Linked DNA regions of Homo sapiens: region 1 is linked to region 2. The links come from fine-mapping of genetic effects on gene expression. Tissue or cell type: skeletal muscle. Region 2 holds a variant in brackets; the other region holds the start of a gene. All regions are shown on one strand. Distances are from middle to middle.

Region 1 (8,341 bases), 33 kb before region 2:
CGTGGTGAAACCCTGTCTACTAAAAATACAAAAATTATCCAGGTGTGGTGGCGGGCACCTGTAGTCCCAGCTACTCGGAAGGCTGAGGCAGGAGAATCACGTGAACCTGGGAGGCAGAGGTTGCAGTGAGCCGAGATCGCGCCACTGCACTCCAGCCTGGGCGACAGAGGGAGACTCCATTTCCTGAAGCCTCTAGTCTGCCTCAACCACTGGCTGATTTTCCCCAAGATAGGAAAAATCATCCCTTTCCCTTTACCAAAGGAGGAGAGGTTAACATTGTACAAGCACATAGGAAGGGCCCCTGTTAACTCCAGTCCATGCAGCATGCATTGGCCAGTAGCCAAAGTCAAGGACACGGATAAGAAAAATGGCTGTGCCTGTGCCTGAAAAGTCAATGCCTTTTTTGGGGAGCTTTCTCAGACTTAACGGGAGCACTGGGGGGAAATCTTGACAGTGGAGGTGGGAGAGAGAACAGTAGAGGGAGGCTGGGCCAAGGACACAGAGAAGTCAATAACTGTACCTGTGTCTGAAAGCGCAGGCAACCCATTTGCATGACGCATGAAGATTTTATCTTTAGGCATTTGGTTGCTATAAATTGCGGGAGCATTGCAACCCACTTTAGAGAACCTTATGGACACTTTGGCAAGAGTTAAGTGCAACCTCTGTTAGGCAGCAGAGTTTGTTGTGAGTCTATTGCTGCAGCTGAGCTCTGTGGGAGAGTCTGAATGCCCAGGCCAAGGCAACGGAAAGGGAAGTCCCAGGAGCTTGGATCTCAAGGCAAGACTCAGACATTATCATGGGTTGGGAAAGGGTGAAGGCAGACCCAGGAAGGAATATTCCTGGATTGGGAGAAAACCAGCAAATTCTGCTTCTAGGATTCCATTGCCCTCTAAGCCATGTGTCTGGGCATCTATCAGTATACCAATGTACTTACCATTACCAAAGGATTTTTTTTTTTTAAATGAAGCCCTGCTCTGTCGCCCAGGCTAGAGTGCAGTAGTGGTGCAATCTTGGCTCACTGCAACCTCCGCCTCCCGGGTTCAAGCAATTCTCCTGCCTCAGCCTCCCATGTAGCTGGGATTACAGGCATGCTCCACCACACCTAGCTAATTTCTGTATTTTTAGTGGAAATGACGTTTCACCATGTTGGCCAATCTGTCCTTGAACTCCTGACCTCAAGCGATCCGCCCACCTTGGCCTCCCAAAGTGCTAGGATTTCAAGCGTGAGCCACCGTGCCTGCCCTTACCAAAGGTTTTACATTTTTTTTACTAAGATATTTTTTATGCGGATGTGTACATTTTATCTTTTTTGCATATCTCCAATTGCACATGAGACAACATGAGCAACACTTCAGCCAACTTGGTTGGAACCCATTTGTATGTTTCATCCTATGAAGGTGGCTACAGATCTGGATATTAACAATCAGATTTTATTCCTTCATTCAAATACTTATTGACAGCTGGGCACGGTGGCTCACACCTCTAATCCCAGCACATTGGGAGGCCGAGGCGGGTGGAGCATTTGAGATCAGGAGTTCAAGACCAGCCTGGCCAACATGGGGAAACTCCATCTCTACAAAAAATATAAAAATTAGCCGGGCGTGGTGGCGGGCGCCTGTAATCCCAGCTACTCGTGAGGCTGAGGCAGGAGAATCACTTGAACCTGGGAGGCAGAGGTTGCAGTGAGCCGAGATCGTGCCACTGCACTCCAACCTGGGCAACAGAGAAGAGACTCTGTCTCAAAACAAAACAAAACCCAAATACTCATTGAGTGCTGGGTCTGTGACAGACACTGTTTTGGATGCTGGGATTGTGGCCATAAGCATAACAGCCTGTTCTCTGCCCTCACGGAACTCAGGTTCTGGGGACTTCCCCCAGACCTCACCTCCGTAGATTACCTTTCGAAGCCACATTTCTTTACAACCTTCTCCCAAGCCTGGAGATGGACAAGGATCAGGGACATTTCTTCTTGAGTCATCTCAGCCCGAAAAGACATAACAGTGCTCCGGGAAAGTTGGCTGTCTAATTACAATATTGGAGAATTAGAAAAAAAAAAGAATACAACAAAAATCTTAATGTCTCAGAAATGTCACATGATTTTTGTCTAATGATTTTAAACAAACAAACCATGGGAATGCCCAAGGTTGACTAGGATGCAATAAAACTGGAAATCGCTTAGGCTTCTAGTGGCAAAGTAGATTGGTAAAGCACTTTTGAAATGTTGACGTTATACGTTAATGATATGGGAGCAGGCAGGGAAGTGCTGCTTACATAAAGGCATGGTCCCCGGTGAGGGTTCCACCCTCGGGCCTGGGCCCATGGATCTAAGTGAGGACAAGCATTTCTGCTTTCGCTCCCAAATGCTGCATTTTCTAAGACCACTCTGGCCCGCCATATCCCCACCTAACAGGCAGACACACACAAGTAGCTGGACATCGAGAGGAACACACAGGAAGAAGAATACACCGGCGGATGCTGACAGGTCATCCACGGCTGAATGACATGGAATTTAGCCAAAGGCAGTTGGAGGAGAACCGCTGAGTGGCCCAAATCCAGGGGAAGACCACCTTCCCACTCCATCCCCTTTCTGGCTCCCCATCCATCTGCTGAGAACTACACTCGATAAAACCTTGCACTCACTCTCCAAGCCCACGTGTGATCCAATTTTTCTGGCATACTAGGGTTAGAACCCTGGAGTACAGAAATTAGACCCTCTGCTTTGTCCTTCCGATAAGCTCACTGGGGCTCGGGAGCTGCAAACACTCAACCCTAGATGGGGCTGCTGTGGGGTCGGAGCCCACGCTCCCCAAGACCTGCCGGTCCGCATGCTCCCCCTAGGGGTTTGAGCCGCAGGGCACCGAAGAAGTGAGCCACACCCCGTTTTATACTGTGCAAGGGGGATAAGGGAACTTTTCCCATTTCGTTAAGTCACAAAAGTCTTCTGAGAATCATCCAACAACACAATGATAGGCACCAAGACAATCGGGGCCATGTTAATTGATAACATTTTTAACTTGGGAGCAAGTGAACGCTCATTCTGTCCAGTGCCTATCATCTATAGCCCTGAGAGAGGCACAGTCCAGTCCCTGCTGAATGACACCTGCCTGATGACAAGGCTCGTGGGCGGGATGGTGGTTGGTTTTACCCAGGCAGGCAACACAGCAGAGTCCACCTTGTTCAGACACTCTCTCTCACATTGCAGCTTCTTTTGTTGCTCAAAAATCACTTTAAATGTATTTTCAATATAATTTGACAAAAAGATAGTCAAATTTGACAAAAAATATAATTTGACAAAAATCACCCCTAGTTCTCCTGCAACATAACTATTGATTTCATTCTCTACTTCCCGTTATTTTTCAAATCCGTATTATTTTTCGCATGGCTTTTATACTTATAATGGTGTGTCCTGTTTTTATTTATTATTATTATTTATTATTATTATTATTTTTGAGACGGTCTCACTGTCACCCAGGCTGGAATGCAGTGGTGCGATCTCGGCTCACTGCAACCTGCGCCTCCTGGGTTCAAGTGATTCTCCTGTCTCAGCCTCCCGAGTTGTTGCAATTATAGGTGCGCACCACCATGCCTGGATAAGTTTTCTATTTGTAGTAGAGATGGGGGTTTCACCATGTTGGCCAGGCTGGTCTCAAACTCCCAACCTCAGGTGATACATCTGCCTTGGCCTCCCAAAGTGCTGGGATTACAGGCATGAGCCGCTGTGCCTGGCCACGTGCCCTGTTTTTAAAATGTAATGTTATACAAGTATTTTCCATCTTGCTATACAGTTGTTATAACTATTATTTTTGATGACTCTATGCTATTTCCTTAAGAGAAGATGTATTGTCATGTTTATAGAAACACTCCCTTATCATGGCACTTTGGCGTCTTTTTTTTTTTTTTTTTTTTTTTTGAGACGGGGTCTCTGTCTGTTGTCCAGGCTGCAGTGCAATGGCGCGATCTCCCAGTTCAAGCAATTCTCCTGCCTCACCCTCCCGAGTAACGGGACTACAGGTGTGCACTACCAGCCTGGCTAATTTTTTGTATTTTTAATAGAGACAGGGTTTCACCATGTTGGCCAGGCTGGTCTTGAACTCCTGGCCTCAAGTGATCTGCCCATGTTGGCCTCCCAAAGTGTTGGGATTACAGGCATGAGCCACTGCGCCCAACCGTGCTTTGGGGTCATAACAGTTTTGATATCCAGATGAGTTCTTTGATAATGTCGCCACCTTGTCCTGCCTGCTGCCTCTACTTTAACCAGAAATGGAACCAGTGATTGACCCCTTCCCCGCTGCCACACTGCTTCAAGCAGGGGCTTAAAGAGCTGCTTATGTTTTTAGTTAAACTTTACATTTTTAGTTAAACTTTACAAAGGAAGTTATTTGATGTAGTATTTTCAAACCTGAGCAATTGAGAGGGTCTCATGATATCTCCCTCATTAAAACCAAGGATCTGCTATATCTCCACCCAGCAATAGCATATGGTGGGTATAAAAAATAGTGTAACGTATTTTTTCTATTTCTGGGACAATTTGTACAACGTGAGAATTGCTTGTTTTCTGAAAGCTTAAAAGAACTTACCAGGTAACACCTTGGAACCGGGAACTTGCAAATTTCCTTGTTTGCCACATGGCATGCTTTAGATTTTTTAAAATTTAAGCTTATAATATGATTAATAAATATGACTCCCTTCTCCATGCCTGAAACCTGTCTCTCCCAGTCCTCACCTATTTTTTTTTCTTTTCTTTTCTTTCTTTTTTTTTTTTTTTGCGATGGAGCTTCTCTCTGCTGCCCAGGCTGGAGTGCAGTGGTGCAGTCTCAGTCACTGCAACCTCCACTTCCCAGGTTCAACTGACTCTTCTGCCTCAGCCTTCTGAGTAGCTGGGATTACAGGTGCCTGCCACCATGCCTGGCTAATTTTTGTATTTTTAGTAGAGACAGGGTTTCACCATGATGGCCAGGCTGGTCTCAAACTCCTGACCTCAGGTGATCCGCCCGCCTTGGCCTCTCAAAATGCTGGGATTACAGGCGTGAGCCACTGCGCTCAGCTGCTATGGCTTTTGGAAGGATGATTTAGGGTATCTTTCTTTTTTTTTTTTCTTTCATTTGGAGATGGTCTCATTTTGGCACCTGGGCTGGAGTGCAGTGACACAATCTCGGCTCACTGCAGTAACCTCCCGGGCTCAAGTGATCCTCCTGTCTTAGCCCCCCAAGTGGCGGGGACTACAGGTGTGCACCACCACACCCAGCTAATATATATATATATATATATTTTTTTTTTTTTTGTAGAGATGGAGATTCACCATGTTGCCCAGGCTAATCTCTAACTCCTGAGCTCAAACAATCCACCCTCCTTGGCCTCCCAAAGTGCTAGGATTACAGGTGTGAGCCACTGCACCTGGCCTTCTTGGGATGTCTCTTAACATGAGAAGTACATGTGCCTGACACTCAGCATCCCACCTCTAGAAATACACCCACCACGGACACAACACAACGGCACAACACAACACAACAGACAAACGTGTATGGATGTTCATCCAGTTATTTGAAGTTGTATAAAGAAATGGAAACAATTTGAAAAATCCATGCCGGGGACTGTTTACATGAAAATAGAGCAATACAAAATAAAGGTTTATGGATGTGAAAAGGAACGAGGCAAATCTATGTACAACTGACCTAGAAAGAGGTCCAGGATATATTAAGTAAAAGAAAAGAGGTTGAAGAATATGTTCTTTATATTCTTTTCTTATTTTTTTTAAGTACTATATATGTGATGTAGGAGTAGGGGAATATTCTCGAAGGAGATACACCAAATGTGAACAGGCTTAGCTCAGGGAGGGAGATTTAGGGCTAGGGTGACAAAATACTTTTGCACTTTTCACTCATCTATATTATTGAGCTTTGTTACCAAAGTAACTTGTTAGTTTTATAATAAAAGCCAATAGAAGCCAGGCACGGTGGCTCACGCCTGTAATCCCAGCACTTTGGGAAGCTGAGGCAGGTGGATCACCTGAGATCAGGAGTTCGAGACCAGCCTGGCCAACAAGTCTCTACTAAAAATACAAAAATTAGCCAGGCGTGGTGGTGGGCACCTGTAATCCCAGCTACTCAGGAGGCTGAGGCAGGAGAATCTCTTGAACCCGGGAGGCGGAGGTTGCAGTGAGCTGAGATTGCACCACTGCACTTCAGCCTGGGTGACAGAGCGAGACTCTGTCTCAACAACAACAAAAAGCCAATAGAATAAAAAGATTTTAGTAATGAGATTTATTATTCATTATTTTATCATAAAATCTCCCACTTGTACAGTAATGCATTTGGTGCAGGGAATGCTGCCAAGTACATGGTAAGACAAAATCTGACAAATTAATACTGTTAAATGTTAATATTGTTTTCTTTTTTTGTTGGTTCTATGTAAGTTTTTCTAACTTGTTATTTTGGCCTTTTGTGTCCTATTTATTTCAGGTTATCTCTTGGATGTAGAAAATTACTCAGATCTGATTTTGACCCAATTTGATACTTTTCTTAATGTTATTCATATTCATATTAATTATTTTTTGTTATAATTATTCAACTTTGATTTGTCCCATTATTTTAGGCATTCTGCTTTTTATTTCTTTGCTCTCTTCCTATGCTCTACATAGATAGGTACAGTGCAGAGGTTTCAGCTGATGCAGTGAGTGGTTTATTGTGGCAGCCCGGAGCTTCACCTTGAAGGCAGAGATGTGTGTTATCTGCGCTTTCCTGCCTACTCTGTGTATACCCAGTAAATGACAGATACAGAACAACACTTAGAATAAGACCTCATCATTCATGACACTAAGTTTTGTTTTTTTATGTATGTATGTATATATTTATTTAATTTTTGATACACAGTCTTGCTCTGTGGCTCAGGCTGGAGTGCAGTGGCACGATCTCGGCTTTGCAACCTCTGCCTCCCTTGTTCAAGCGATTCTCCTGCCTCAGTCTCCCGAGTAGCTGGGATTATAGGTGTGCACCACCACGCCCAGCTAATTTTTGCATTCTTAGTAGAGACGGGGTTTCACCATGTTGACCAGGCTGTCAACCTCCTGGGCCTCAGGTGATCCATCTGGCCACCTCAGCCTCTCAAAGTGCTGGGATTAAAGTCCTGAGCCACTACGCCCAGCTGACACTAAGTTTTTTATGTTTAAAATCTTGCTCAGCTCTCCCTGCTGTCCTGGGCTAGAATAGATCTTGGGAGATGACTCTATTAGACTTTATTTTGGGGAGGAGGCAAGAAGGGAGTGAGCAGGGCTGAGACCCAGCAAAGGCAGAGGATGATCATATAGCGGGAGTGGGAGAACCACTGGACAGGTTCTGGGTCTGTCCATGAAATGGGCTCATAGTTCCCTTCCAGTTAAATTCATCTCCTATGCAACTTTTGTGCTTTATGCATAGGATGAGAGGTCAAACAACATCATCTTGTGTTTGATTATGTACACAGATGTTTCACGAATCATCATATTTCATAATCGATCAATTTCTGATAATTTAAAAATGCATCTTCCATGAGAAAGCTCAGAATATCACACTGAGAGCGAGAAAGAACTACCCTTCTCCCCCTGCTTTGACTCACGTCTCCCAAACAGGGCGTTAGACTCTTCTGAGTGGTTTCCATTACAAGACACCCAGGAGGCCACCTTCAGTGGAGGCTGTGGCCACTGTGCTCAGGGATCACACACAGATGCAAGGAGCTTGCTCCTCTCTCCTGCCTCCTCTCTCAACACGGAAGAAGGGATCCACTGGCCCCAGTTCATTTATCTTGCTTTCTCAACTCTTCTCAGTCGGACACCCTGCATTCATTGCTGGAGGACACAGCGATCCTGAACTTGGAGTCTGGTTTTAGAGGCAGGGAGAGGCTCACGTAGACCTAAGCCAGGTAGTTCAGTCCATTCTGCCAGAGAGCTCTGCTCTGGAGAGTCAGCCCCAAGCCAGAAGGGTAAAACGAGGCATTGTCCTTTTCTGCTACTACTGTTTGCCATTGTCCCTCATGCTAATATCTCCCTCGAGGGCCACATAGTGAGAAGGCATGGCTGGGCCAAAAACAAATCTAGGCACTTCTGGAATTCTCAACCACACAACCAGATAACAGTGCCTGGACTGACCACAAAACTGGACCCATTAAGAGTTGCAGGGCCCAGAGGGATAACGCAGATTTTTATTTATTTTTATTTTTTTGAGACAGAATCTTGCTCTGTCATCCAGGCTGGAATGCAGTGGCATGGTCTCAGCTCACTGCAACCTCCGCCGCCCAGGTTCAAGCGATTCTCCTGCCTTAGCCTTCCAAGTAGCTGGGATTACAGGTGCGCACCACCACGCCTGGCTAA
Region 2 (8,341 bases):
GCTGGAGTGCAATGGCGCGATCTCAGCTCACTGCAACCTCTGCCTCTTGGGTTCAAGTGATTCTCATGCCTCAGCTTCCGGAGTATCTGGGATTACAGGCGTACACCACCACACAAGGCTAATTTTTTTGTACTTTTTGTAGAGAGGGGGTTTCACCATGTTGGCGAAGTGATCCACCTACCTCGGCCTCCCAAAGTGCTGGGATTACGGGTGTGAGCCACCACACCTGGTCATCTATTTTCCTGTTTCTTTTTAACAACTGCCCAATTTGGGTCATTCTCTCAGTCGGACTCAGAGTGTGACCCACTGCTTAGCGCTACACTCGGTTTCCACATGTCTTTGTCTCCATGGCCGTCTGAAGACTGTGAAGCAGAGTTTCAGTAGGCTTTTTTCTTTTTTTGACAATTCCAACTGAAGCAGTTTTTGTTCCTCCATCCTCCTGAGATCATGTGATGAGTCAGTGGCTGCTCACAAGCATTTAAGACTCTTGAGAGAAGCAACATATAGGAAATGTTATCAGTAGGACTAATGACAGGATAATGCCAAGAGTTTGGAAAGTACCCTGAAACTAGGGTCCCCAAGAGCCGAGATTTAATCTCTTGATTTAACTAGATCAGTCGACGGTATTTCCCACGTCTGGTGGAGCACCTGGACCTGGCCTTTTATATTTCTAAAGATCCCAGATTTGGGCATCTATTCCTGATGTATTCATATAGAAATAGCATTTGTTTTTTCTTCTTCTGGTGTGGCAGTTTCAATCCGATGGGTGTTCCCGGCTTGCAGCTTGGATGTCTCTGGTGATATCATCAGGTTTCTGGTGAACTTTCTGTGTGGCCAACACAGCCTCAGGCACCAAGGTTGTCCAGGTATAAACTGTTGTAGCAATTTCTCTGAAGTCTCTATGAAGTCATCCAGCTCCCATTCACAGGGCTGTAAGGCTAAGAACAACCCCAGTTTAATGGGTTCAACAGTGTGATTTAAAAGTTATCAGACACCTGTGCTTGAGTCTTTTTTTTATGAATCTCTTGAAGTTTTGTGTCATAGCGATTTGCAAGTGCTTTCAGGAAAGCATCAGAGTAAATGATAACTGCTTGGTGGATGAAAAAAAAATTAAAATGGCCATGGTTAATGATCTCATGAGAGTTCATCTGAATTTTCATAAGAAAATTTAGTTATTCATGCGGTATATGACATTTTAAGATAACTGGAATTAAAGCTGATAACATTATACCAGGATATATCAGATTTCTAGGAATTTCATACAATTTCTGGAACACTTATATTAATAACATATAGCTATACAAACATAACATGATACTATATAACAAATAGCATCCTTTCTTATTTGATAACATAAAACATAAAAGTATAAAATACCAGAAGAAAATGTAGGACATTTTTATAATGTTGGATGAATAAAGGCCTTTCTTAGCATGGCATGAAATCCAGGTACCTAAAGGAAAATGTCTATGTCACATTTTAAAACTCTGAATAGAAAAAAAAAAAAACTACAAGGAAAGTAAAATGGCAAATGACTGACTGAAGAATATATTTGCAGTACATGTGACAGACCGTGGGTTAATATGCATCATATGTAAAGAGTGTCTACAAATTAACAAGAAAAGTATAGGCAGACAGAAAGAAAATGGACCACAGATCTGAAAAGGTGTGAGGTGTGGTAGGGCATGGTCAGGCTTGCTGCACTGAAACCTCAAGTGGGTGCGATGGTGCAGTAAGTAGTGGGATGTGGTGGGATGTACCTGTGATATAGAAGCATTCCCTTATATGTCACAAGAACGAATCTTTTTTTTTTTTTTGAGATGGAGTCTCGCTCTGTCACTCAGGTTGGAGTGCAGTGGCGTGATCTTGGCTCACTGCAACCTCCGCCTCCCGGGTTCAAGTGATTCTCCTGCTTTAGCCTCCCAAGTATTTGGGATTACAGGCACACACCACCACACTCGGCTAATGTTTTTATATTTTTGGTAGAGATAGGGTTTCACCATGTTGGTCAGGCTGGTCTTGAACTCTTGACCTCAAGTGATCCACCCCCCTCAGCCTCCCAAAGTGCTGGGATTACAGGTGTGAGCCACTGCACCCAGCCCAAGAATGAATCTTGAATGCCGATCAACCCTTGACCCCAAACTAAAATATTGTAAAACCACAAGTTCTGGCTTGCTCTGATCTCCTCTGAAATAATGGATTCTTCACTCCGTAGGGGCTGCTGAGAGCACTACACTTCTGGCAACCTCCTCAGGAAACCAAGGGAGATAGGCAAGCTACACTCCCTTCCTGGCATGCTTGATTTTGCCAAGTACAAGTGCAGGCAATGACATCAAATGTTTCACCTCTCAGACGGCAAAAATGCAAATGATTGAGCACCTCGAATTTTGATGACAGTGTAGTGCAAAAGGCCTGTCCACACGTTACTGATAGACATGAGAATCTGGCAATATCTATAGATATTTTGAATGCGAATCCTCTATCAGCAGAATGGCATGTGGATTAGCTTGAGAAACTAGAGACTAACACATCTATGTCCTTCTCAGCCCAATTAGACAGAATCGAGTCATTTTAACCTTAGGGACTGCACTAAGAGTGCCAGTTACAGGATTTATTGCTAATGATTTATAGGGCTCCAAATGACAGTGCTTACAAATCTATAGATTCTTGAAGAGAAAGGAGCACTCTACAGCTAACATTAAAGTCAGGATGTGTGCAGGGCATGGTGGTGCATACCTGTAATCTCAGCACTTTGGGGAGCTGAGGTGGGAGGATTGCTTGAGACCAGGAGTTCGAGACCAGCCTGAGCAACAGAATGAGATTCCCATTGCTACAAAAAATTTAAAAATTAACTAGGCCTGGGCTGAGTGCAGTGGCTCACGCCTGTAATCCCAGCACTTTAGGAGGCTGAGGCAGGTGGATCACCTGAGGTCAGGAGTTTGAGACCAGCCTGGCATACGTGATGAAACCCCATCTCTACTAAGAATACAAAAAATTAGCTGGGTGTGGTGGTGCACACCTGCAATCCCAGCTACTTGGGAGGCTGAGGCAGGAGAATTGCTTGAACCCAGGCGGCAGAGGTTTCCGTGAGCTGAGATCATGCCATTGCACTCCAGCCTGGGTGACAGAGGAAGACTCTGTCTCAAGAAAAACAAAACAAAACAAAACAAACAAACAAACAAAAACTAGGTGTGGTGGCACACCCCTGTAGTCCTAGCTACCCAGGAGGCTGAGGTGGGAGGACGCTTAAACCTAAGAGTTGGAGGCGTCAATGAGATATGATCATGCCACTGGACTCCACTGTGCAACAGAGACCAAAGAAAAAAAAAAGAAGAAGATGTGCATCACAGCTATGGCCAGCTCACAGCAAGGGGTCTGGCAGGGCCGGTTTGGGTTTCTATTGTCCTCTCTACTGTATGGTCATGGCAAAATGCACTTCCTCTTTCAGATACAGAACCCTTGGCAGGTGCACAGAGCACCACAGAACTAAGGGGCCCAAAAGAGAGTCTCGGCTGGGGTTTTTTATGTTTCACAGGTCACATACACAAATTCCTGTTACATAACTAGCTTCTGCAGCACAGCTCTCTGGGGGTCTCACCAGGAGAAAATCAGTCTTACTGTTATCAATAAACAATGCTGACAAGTTGGTACAAACCACGCCAAACTCCTCCTTGCCCCCCTGCCTACAAAGCGACACTATTCACCGGCTTTCCTGCCTTGGGCAACATCAGTGCCAGGCAGCAAGTTTAGTACAACCGCTCAGTTTCATTCTAGACATGCTGCAATTCACCCTCAGAGCACAGGAACTAAACAAGGAAGAGGTGTGTTTATTGGGTTTTTGGGCAAAAAAGGAAAGATAAATGCAACTGATTTGTCCCTTCCCACGGTTCCGCATCCCTCATTCCAAATGCAGTACTCACGTTCCGGGCCCGCCCCCTCAGGATGGAGCTCTCAGGGTCATGAATCGGCATTGGACCTCCATGTTCGGTGGTGTGGCTTGTTTTTACAGGT[T/G]ACTTAATAGGATCCAGGTTGGGTTACGAGCAACCTATAAATAAACCAGATGCGCTCCACAGAGCCCCAGACCCAGGCCAGCTCTTCTGCTGATCATATGCTACCTATCACACGCGCACACTCTGTTTATATCTACCAGACACAGGCCTGCCAAGGCTGTTCCATCAGGACAGAGGAATGGTGGATATCTTTTATACTTTGCCCATCATAATTTTCTTCCTGGAAGTGTGGGTGCACCTCCTTTGCAGAGGTGGGTGCCTGACTCAGCCGGCCTATCCCATGAGTGGATTGCAGAGGTTCACAAACCATTTGGACCTAGCCACTTGGTAATTGAACTGTTCAGTATTTCTGTGACCTAGGGAAGCTGTGAAAAAAATTGCTGAAACACTAAGGCTCTCAGACACTAACTGCAGAACCTCTGCCATGCTGGTGCTTTGGGCAGAGCCATTCCCAGGACTTCTGTGGGAGAAATAGGTAGGAAAGATGGACGCCCTTCCCTCTGGGGCTGCTAGTTAAAGGACAAGGCAAATCTAGATCTCTGATGGTCATCTTTTCCATGTTGTACAAAGGTCATTCCTGGGAAAGAAACCCACGTGGAGGAAAGCAGACCTGAGAGAGACAGGAGTCCTAGGCCAGGCACGGTGGCTCATGACTGTGATCCTAGCACTTTGGGAGGCCAAGGTGGGGGCGGATCGCTTGAGGTCAGGAGTTCAAGGCCTGTCTGGCCAATATAGTGAAACCCCATCTCTACTAAAAGTACAAAATTAGTGGGGTGTGGTGGCACTTGCCTGTAATCCCAGCTACTTGGGAGGCTGAGGCAGGAATCACTTGAACCTGGGAGGTGGAGGTTGCAATGAGCTGAGACTGAACCATTGCACTCCAGCCTGGGCAACAGAGTGAGACTCTGTCTCAAAAAAAAAAAAAAGTCCTAGTATATAGTTGAGCACCTAGAACCAACCTTACCTGAAGCAGGGACATTGCTGGACTTTTCATTTTATGACCTAATTCATTCCTGAACCAGTCAGCATTCCTAGCTGCTAACAAAGTGAACCCAAACTAGCTTAATCAGAAAAGCAATGTATTACCAAATATTAGGTATCTCAGAAGCTCTCTAGGAGAGAAGGAAAAATGGCCTATATACAATCTGTGTCCAGAAGAAACACCCTCAGGAACAGCACCCAAAATCACACTGAAAAGTGGTTTAGTGGGAAGCACTGGTAGGCACAGACAGCTCTGACTTCAGCACCATTGTCACCAACGTGACCAATGCTGGATACACGACTACAGCCTCTTATGCTGTTGGCTCTGGAAACAGGATGTAACTGCTGCCATTATCCCCAGAATAGATTCTGGAGGGAGCTCATGATTTGAAGTCTAATATGGGTACATCTGTTTGGCTGCATCTCTGCATCAAGAGAGGCTGGGAATGAGTATCTGATTTCTGTAGTCAGAGGCTATTGCCACATCCCACCAAGAGCTATAGAGCAGGGAGCGCCCCCAAATGGAGGAAAAGTGTTTACTGGGCAAAAAGAATCACCAAAGTCTACAAAGCCTTTGACTACCCAACATCAGCAAGTACACACACACACACACACACACACACACACACTTAAATAAACAAAACAAAGTAACAGAAAATAATATTTATAAACCCCTTTTAGCCCACATACACACAAAAATACTCTTTTCAAAAGGGGATCAGGACACATCAGTTACTGCATCCAGCTCCAAGTCAGCTTCCAATTCCATCCCAGGGCAGATCACCTATGTCTTCATTCCAGCTTCTTGGTGGCTGGGAAAGTGAGTTTACCGATCAAGTGCTGGGTGGCTGTGATGTTTTACAAATGTCCACCAGAGTCCATGTCAGTTTCTCTCCTCCTCTCCTTCTCTCTCCCTGTCATTCCTTCTCTCCTGTCTCTCATTCTTTCTCTCTCTTTCTCTCTGTCATTCCTTCTCTCCGTCTCTCTGTCTCTCATTCCTTCTCTCTCTCATTCCTTTTCTCCTCTTTCTCGTTCCTTCTCTCTCTTTCTGTCATTCCTTCTCTCCTTCTCTCTCATTTCTTCTCTCCTTCTCTCTCTCATTCATTCTCTTTCTCTCATTCCTTCTCTCCTTCTCACTCTCATTCCTTATCTACTTCTCTCTCCCTCAATCTTTCTGTCATTCTCTCTCTCATTCCTTCTCTACTTCTCTCTCCCTCAATCTTTCTGTCCTTCTCTCTCTCATTCCTTCTCTCTTTCTCTCTCTCATTCCTTCTCTCTTTCTCTCTGTCATTCCTTCTCTCCTTCTCTCTCTCTCATTCCTTCTCTTTCTCTCATTCCTTCTCTCCCATTCCTTCTCTCCTTCTCTTTCTCTCATTCCTTCTCTCTCTCACTCCTTCTCTCCTGTCTCTCTCATTCCTTCTGTCCTTCTCTCTCTCTCTCATCCTGTCTCTCTCTCTCATTCTTTCTCTCCTTCTCTCTCTCATCACTTCTCTCTCTCTCTCATTCCTTCTCTCTCTCTCGCTCTCTCTCATCCCTTCTCCAATCTGCATATAAGGGGACCCATACAGTTCAAACCCATGTTGTTCAAGGCTCAACTGTAATTGTACATGTAGAAAATCTAAAATAATCTACGGATAAGCCATTAGATTATAATAAATTTAGTGGGCTCCCTGGATACAAGGTCAGTATACAGAAATGCATTGTATTTCTTCATACTAAGAGACAAACAATAATAAAATGAAATAAATAATTTATGATATTAGAACACATCAAATACCTAAGAATATATCCAGGAAATAATTTTCATGACACTGAAACTACAAAGCATTGTTAAAATAAGTGAAAGACCTAAATAATTGGAGAGATACTATGAATTGAAAAATTCAGTTTTGTCAAGAATTCAATTATTTTCAAATTGATCTATAGATTCAATAAAACACTAGCAGATATTTTTATTGAAATTGACAAGTTGATTTGATTCTAAAATTTATATGGAAATAAAAACGACCTAGAGTAACAAAAGCAATCTTGATAAAGAACAAGTTGGAAAATTTACATCACAAGATCTAAAAGATTCATTGTAAATCCACAGTAATTAAGAGTATGGTATTGCACAAGGCCAGACAAATAGACCAATGGAACAAAACAGAGAATCCAGAAACAAACTGTATAAGTTCTGTTGGTCTATTTGTTTAACCTTGTGTTTGTACCACCACCTCATTTACAACAAAGGCACCCTGCAATGCAGTAGGAGAAGGAAGGTCTTTGCCACAAATGGTGATGATCAATTAGATATTCATATGGGAAAAAAGTGAAATTTTTTTTTGAGATAAGTTCTCACTCTGTCTCCCAGGCTGGAGTGCAGTGGCATAATATTGGCTCACTGTAACCTCCACCTCCCAGGTTCAAGTGATTCTCATGCCTCAGCCACCTGAGTAGCTCGGATTACAGACACGCACCACCATGACTGGCTAATTTTTGTATTTTTAATAGAGATGGAATTTCACCATGTTGGCCAGGCTGGTCTTGAACTCCTGGCCTCATGTTATCCACCCACCTCAGCCTCCCAAACTGTTGGGATTACAGGCATGAGCCACTGTGCCCAGCCAAAGAAAGTGAATCTTGATTCCCTCCTCACATCACACATAAAAATCAATTGCTGATTATGACAGATTTAAAGCTTAAAATAAAACAATAAAACTTACAGAAAAAATCAGAGGAGGATATGTTCACGATCTAGGGATATGCAAATATTCTACACAACATTAAAAGAACTGATAGATAGAAGAAAACATTTATAACTTGGACTTCACTAAGAAATTTTGTACATTAAAATATACCAGTAAGAGTACACCCGTGTTTATAGCAACACTATTTACAATAGCTAAAAGGAGGAAGCAACCCAAGTGTAAATGTGATAGAGGCAGGAGATGGCCAAATGCTGAGGCAGATAGGAAAGGGTCCCTGGAGAAACTCCGACCCACCCCAGGTTACACCAGATGAAATCACCAGATGTAATCACCAGACACTTTATGCAGATAAGGGAACTTGCACAGGGAGCTTGCCTGGGCATACCCACAGCAGACTGGAGGCCCACATGCCCTGGGGGAATGGGGTGGAGCTACCAGAAATTCACACTTTATGCAGGGGAGGATCCTGACCTCTTCAGCTTGTGTCTAGTGGCTCCGGTATTCAATTTGTGAAATGGAAATCTGCTTGCAGAGCCCCTCTCTTTGCTGAGAGCTTTCCTTTCACTGAGTAAATTCTGCCCACCTCACCCTTCAATGTGTCTGCATGCCTAATTTTTCTTGGTCGTGAGACAAAAACCTGGATTTAGCTGAACTAAGGAG

Direction of the effects. Positions count from the first base shown, and alleles are read on the strand shown. Sizes are in standard deviations (SD) of each study's normalised expression.
With allele T in place of G in region 2, the expression in skeletal muscle of the gene that starts at base 4,632 in region 1 is higher (moderate effect, 0.59 SD a copy in GTEx).

Evidence for each region. PIP is the estimated chance that this variant, and not a neighbour inherited with it, causes the effect.
Region 1: it holds the start of APOL5, and the variant in region 2 is fine-mapped to the expression of APOL5 in skeletal muscle (GTEx, PIP above 0.99).

The regions. Positions count from the first base shown.
Region 1 is chr22:35,714,163-35,722,503 of GRCh38, reverse strand. It overlaps APOL5 (apolipoprotein L5), which reads right to left and starts at 4,632. Exons shown (of 5, transcript NM_030642.1): 1 at 4,578-4,632; 2 at 1,850-1,936. The coding sequence starts at 4,632.
Region 2 is chr22:35,681,594-35,689,934 of GRCh38, reverse strand. No RefSeq gene overlaps it. Among named protein-coding and RNA genes, the nearest start is that of APOL5, 32 kb to the left of the region's middle. The variant T/G (reference allele first, on the strand shown) is at 4,012.